2 separate regions of the Homo sapiens genome follow, and region 1 is linked to region 2. Evidence: fine-mapped expression QTL. A gene starts in region 2. The other region holds a variant in brackets. All regions are shown on one strand. Distances are between the middles of the regions.

Region 1 (2,923 bases), 41 kb before region 2:
AACATCACCACCACCTTCTGGGCACTTATAATTTACCAGACACTTTCATCCAGACCACCTGCATGAACTACACAGTCCTTCTTTTTAAAAATGTTCTTTATTTTATTATTATTTTTTCAAAACAGGGTCTCACTCTGTCACCCAGGCTGGAGTGCAGTGGTGCAGTCATAGCCCACTGCAACCTTGAACTCCTGGGCTCAAGACATCTTCCTGCCTCAGCTGCTGGCTAATTTTTTAATTTTTTGTAGAGATGGAGTCTCACTATGTTGCCCAGGCTGGTCTCAAACTCCTAGCCTCAAGCAATCCTCCCACCTCTGCCTCCCAATGTGCAAGGATTATAGGCGTGAGCCACTGCGCCTGGCCTTGGAAGGTTCTTTATCTTCTCCCATGGGTGTCTGGTTAAGTGCAGCCGCCTTCTGTGAATCTCAGAATGCACTTTTTAACCTTTTGTAGTCCCTGAGCCCACTTTGAGAAACTGCTGAAAGTTGTGCACTGCCCCGTTACGCAGAAGAATTCCAACGTGCACACACTTCAGCATACACCCTCAGGGAGTCACAGCCTTCCAACGTCCATTCATGGAGCCCAGGTCCAAAACCTGTGATCCGAGAATAGGATAACCCTTTTCTGCCCATAGGGTGTTTTCCAAAGACCTTTCATTGCTCTGGGTTACGTGGGAAACAACAAAACAAAGTCTGACTTTTTTTTTCCCCCAACTGTGTACTTATAACCTCCCCTTGGAATGTCTTGTTTTGTTTTCCAGAAAAAAAGGGCCTCATTTTATGAGAACATCATTAAGGCAATGAGGCCTCAGCCTGAATACTTTGCTGTTGGATACTATGGACAGGGCTTTCCTTCTTTCCTACGGGTAAGAAACCTGATGGTGGTCTCCCAGGCCATTAGGAGGAGGGAAGAGACTCATTTCTTTTCCAGATGGGCAACAGGGTGTTAGCAGCTGCCGACCCGTGTTCTCGCTGTGGGAGGTAGGGGAGGGAAACCACTTCCTGAGCAGCCGGCCTCTTCACCCCACACCCCCGGACACCCGTGGTGTTCTGCAGGT[CTT/C]TTGTGAAATGACTTTTCCCAGGTGCAGTGAAAAAGGGAAAAACAGAACCATCCCCCGCACTGGTCAGCTGCTACGGGTCACGCCAGGGAAAAGTGTGGACTGATGTATTTCGTTGTTTACCATGTTTCTAGCCAGAGCTAATTTGAAAATAGGTATCCCAAGAACCAGACTGCAGGAGTATCCCAAAATAAAACATTTTATTATAATAATAATGACAAGGATGGTATTTTTCTTCCATCTCAAAATTGTGTATAATGCGATATTCAATTTATAGTTTAATAAATAAAAATTCTTATCTCTTACGAAAAGTTTCTTTTAGAGCTGAGCTTTGCTTAAACATTTATTATCCATCTGCTTTCTCCTAATTTGAAAACAAGCGATAAAGCAAGCAATTTACATTCCTAACAGTGCCTAATGAGACAGTTTATTCATTCAGTCAGTAAATATTTATTGAACATCTACTGTGTGCCAGGCATAGGGAAGGCATTAGAAAGATCTTGCTGATTACAGTCAAACATAGTCCCTACTCTCATGGATTTTACAACCTAAACTCATGAGGGGAGATTTTAATCACACATGAATGTAAAATTTAATCTGCATGTCGGACGCAGTGGCTCATGCCTGTAATCCCAGCGCTTTGGGAGGCTGAGGCAGGCAGATCACTTGACGTCAGGGGTTCGAGACCAGTGTGGCCAACATGCTGAAACGCTGTCCCTACTAAAAGTACAAAAATTAGCTGGGCGTGGTGGTGCATGCCTGTAATCTCAGCTACTCAGGAGGCTGAGGCAGGGGAATTGCTTGAACCCAGGAGGTGGAGGTTGCATTGAGCCGAGATCACACCACTGCACTCCATCCTAGGTGACAGAGCGAGACTCCATCTCAAAAATAAATAAATAAATAAACTATAACCAAGAAAGATACCCTGTGCTATAAGAATCTGTAACCAGGAAGTATTTACCCAAGTGAAATAGAAACTTACCCTTTTACAAAAAATGTACAGGAATATTTATAGCAGCTTTAATCATAGTCACCAAAGACAGGATCCAATCCACGTGTCCCTGAACTGGTGATGGGATAAACAAACTTCAGTGTATCCACACAACAGAATACTGCAGCAGCCAAAGGCAGTCAGCTCCTGATACACACAACTGCGGGCATGATTCCCACCCACATGCAGCTTGCTAGGTAAAAGAAGTTACACTTAAAAGGCTGCGTACTCTGTGGTTTTATTTATACGAAATTCTTGCCTAGGCAACGCTTCCTATCAGGACAGAAAGTAGATCAGTGGTTGCTGGCCAGGGGGAGGTTGGCTGCAGAAGGGCCTGGGGAAATTTTTGGTGGCAGTGAAACTGTTCTGTATCTTGATTGTGGTCCTGGTTATGTTTGTCAAAACTCACAGAATTTTACACTAAAAGGGGTCCATTTTACTGTATGTAGATTATGTCTTAATATTATTATTTTATTTATTTATTTATTTATTTATTTATTTATTTTTTTTTTTTTTGAGACAGTGTCTCGCTCTGTCACCCAGGATGAAGTGCAGTGGTGGAATCTCGGCTCACTGCAACCTCCGTCTTCTGGGTTGAAGCGATTCTCGTGCCTCAGCCTCCCAAGTAGCAGGGATTACAGGTGTGCACGACCAGGCCCAGCTAATTTTTTGTATTTTAGTAGAGATGGGGTTTCACCATGTTGGCCAGGCTGATCTCGAACTCCTGACCTCAGTTGATCCCCCTGCCTCAGCCTCCCAAAGTTTTGGAATTATAGGCATGAGCCACCGTGCCCAGCCTATGTCTTAATAAAAAAAAGAATCAGGGCCTGGCACAGTGGCTCACACCTGTAATCCCAGCTACTTGGGAAGCTGAG
Region 2 (2,923 bases):
GGATACTCATTTATAAATTATAAAAATGTACTGATCTAATAGCATAGATATGTTTAAAAGATGAAATGAGGAAAAAAAAAACGAAGTTCTAACGTTTTTTCCAAATCCCAAAGAATCATCTTCTGATACAGACCTTGACCCTATCCCATTGTTTCTAATTCCTTTAGCAATCCCATACACTCAGAGTATGACGTGCTGTCTCACACTTGTTGCTATTAATATATTCTTTTGGAATTTTTCCAGCTCTTTGTTTAGTCCCTGTGTGAACTGAAAGTAGGAATGGGACTTCTACTTTGTAAGTGCCTTATCTCACCTGGAGCATCTAGGGTACAACATCATAGAATATTGACATTGGGGCTATCCTGAATGTTTAATATAGTTAAATTGAATAAAATCACTATGTCTTATTTTGAAGCTGAGAGAAACTTACCTCTTGGAAAGAATCAATCAAATTTTCGGCATCTCTCTTTCCTCCAGGGCGCAGTCCATAGGACCAGTGCTGGCTGGAGCAGCCTTCCACGCACCAAGTCAGTAGAATAAGGCCAGCTAGGAGTTTTTGAATTGGCTTCATTCTAAGGCACATGAATGCACAATCAAATTAGATCCAGACAAGGTTGAGTATAAACTAAAAGACCTCTTTAGTGAAAAAGCTAGCATCTGTATCACTAACCCTGCAGAAGATGGAAGTCAGAGTCAGTTTTTACATACAGACACTGAAACTCAGAGACACTTGCTGGCTTGCCTTTAGTTTCTTAGCCACTGGGGACAAAATGAGTACTTAAGCTCACATGTTCAGGACCTTTTTAGTACTAAAATAGTCTATACTTTTATTTTTATTGTTTGGTTATCCAAACCCCATAATTCATCCCTTATCAAGTTCATCATTTTGCCTTAACATTTCCCCTGTTGTGGATTGGTCTTCAACTCTTTCATTCCTGAGATAAAGAGAACTGAGTCATCTGTTAAGAAAAGTAGCTCCTACTAGGAATCTCTGGCTAATATAAAATTGCTTGACATTACATGGCTACCCCATGGTACTAATGACATTTTTCTATTTATCCTTCAGTCTTCCTAGCATTACTGCTGGCTGAACCATCTGTGGGAGAGAGGACTCAACACTGTTCAAAGTAGTTAGTCCCAGACCAGATGCCTTCCTAGCCAAGGGGGCCTCTAATTTTCTAATGAAATGTGTCTCCAAGTTAATTTTCATTTGATGGGAAAGAGGCTAAAAACTAAATCAAACACTGGTCGATAAGCTGTGGGAGTCCCCAAAGCCTGGATCTCTGTGGCTGGTGATGGCAAGGACAGTGAAGGACAGGACATCATTAGATACCGTCACACCTGGATTTAGCCCTTGGGCTGTCAAATGCCCTGTAGACATACAATAGCATGCAATCTAAAGAAGAAAAACTCGTGCTAGAAATAATACAAAGCCTTTTACCTGTTTAGAGGCAGAGAGCCAAAAAGATCCCAATCTTCCCTTGAAGTAGGTTGAGTACTGTGACTTTTCTGTTTTCCTATCTTCCTTTTTATAGGGAATTTTTCCAGGACATTGAAATCTTTCCTGCTGGTAAATTATACTGCAAATGGACTATGCTTTTTTTTTTTTAATGGTAATTTTTAAAAATCCTCACATAAAGCCCTTTAATGGTGTATGTAATTGGAACACCCCCTGGTATATCTGTTAGATTTACTTAAGTGCAGCCATTAAAACCTCAGCTAAAACTTTTATAGCTGAGGACACAATTCAAAGAGATTAAAATCCAGCTAGATTGGATTCCCTTGAGGAAACCAGCAGACCTATCAAGAGTTCAAGGAAAATAGATGTCTTAGATTAAGTGAAGTCAAATGCATACATAACTTCCACAAAGGAGGCTATACAACAAATATAGGACATTGAGTCAGGATGTCTGGGAGCTTCTGGCTCTTGGATTCTTCATTTGTAAAAGGAAGGGTGTAGACTAGATGGACTAGATGATCACAGAGTTGCTTCCAATTTTAAAAATCTGATTTACAAGTAAGTGACACTATATACCAAGTCCATGTAGGATCCTAAATCAGACAGTTGTGTGTTTGAAAATTCCCTCATCTACCCACCAGGTTCCCTGCTTGACTTACCTTGAAAGCCTTCTAAAGCATCAAAAAGGCAAGAAACATATTCTGAGAGCAAGACCATATTGAGCAGACTTACATCAACAGATCAACTCATTTCAGTAGATGCTTATTGAGTTAAATATGCAAATCACTCTTAAGGGCAGTGGGAACAGAAAGATGAGAAATTATAGTTATTTAATAAATAGCAAATGTATAAGAGCATTCATTACAATAGCCATGCAAAGTGGGTATCATTATCTAAATTTTATAGATGTTCCACCCCAGAGGTGCAACCGTGGACGTGTTATTTACACAGGACAAGCATGTAAAATACACACACAACCATTACTCTTAATTACATTTATTTGAATACATGGTTGTCTTCCCCTAATTTACCCCTAGGCTGAAACCTGTAATAGTCAAAGATCCCATCTTATTTAAATCTCTCTTAATAAACCCCCGGCATTTAGTGAGCATTCAGTAAGTATAGGTTTGAATGAATGAATGAACGAATGAATGAATAGAAAGCAAAAAGCTTTTAACCAGGTAAGGCCTAATGCTGCCTCTATTTCTGCATCAAAGATATGCTTTATCTGACACAGAATTAAACTTTCATGTATAATTGGCTGTAAATCCTGTTATATTAGCTAAGCTGTAAGATGGCTAAAAAAAATAACTGGATATTTGTTCATTTTACAGCTGGGAATGGCAATTTCCCCTCATGTAGGATGCTAAACCCATCAGTCATTGCACAGTCTCCTCTGGAATAACTACATTTGCAGGGATTTCAGAGTAAAGAGAAATGGTGTCTTACCTAAGTAAATTCCCT

Direction of the effects. Alleles are on the strand shown, and positions count from the first base shown. SD is a standard deviation of normalised expression in the study named.
In carriers of allele C in region 1, the expression in tibial nerve of the gene that starts at base 1,502 in region 2 tends to be higher than with CTT alone (small effect, 0.17 SD a copy in GTEx).

The links.
Region 1: its variant is fine-mapped to the expression of GNRH1 in tibial nerve (GTEx, PIP 0.98).

Annotation. Positions count from the first base shown.
Region 1 is chr8:25,381,914-25,384,836 of GRCh38, forward strand. DOCK5 (dedicator of cytokinesis 5) reads left to right here. Exons shown (of 52, transcript NM_024940.8): 40 at 761-865. Among named protein-coding and RNA genes, the nearest start is that of MIR6876, 38 kb to the left of the region's middle. The variant CTT/C (reference allele first, on the strand shown) is at 1,058.
Region 2 is chr8:25,422,760-25,425,682 of GRCh38, forward strand. It overlaps GNRH1 (gonadotropin releasing hormone 1), which reads right to left and starts at 1,502. Exons shown (of 4, transcript NM_001083111.2): 1 at 1,442-1,502; 2 at 431-572. The coding sequence starts at 571.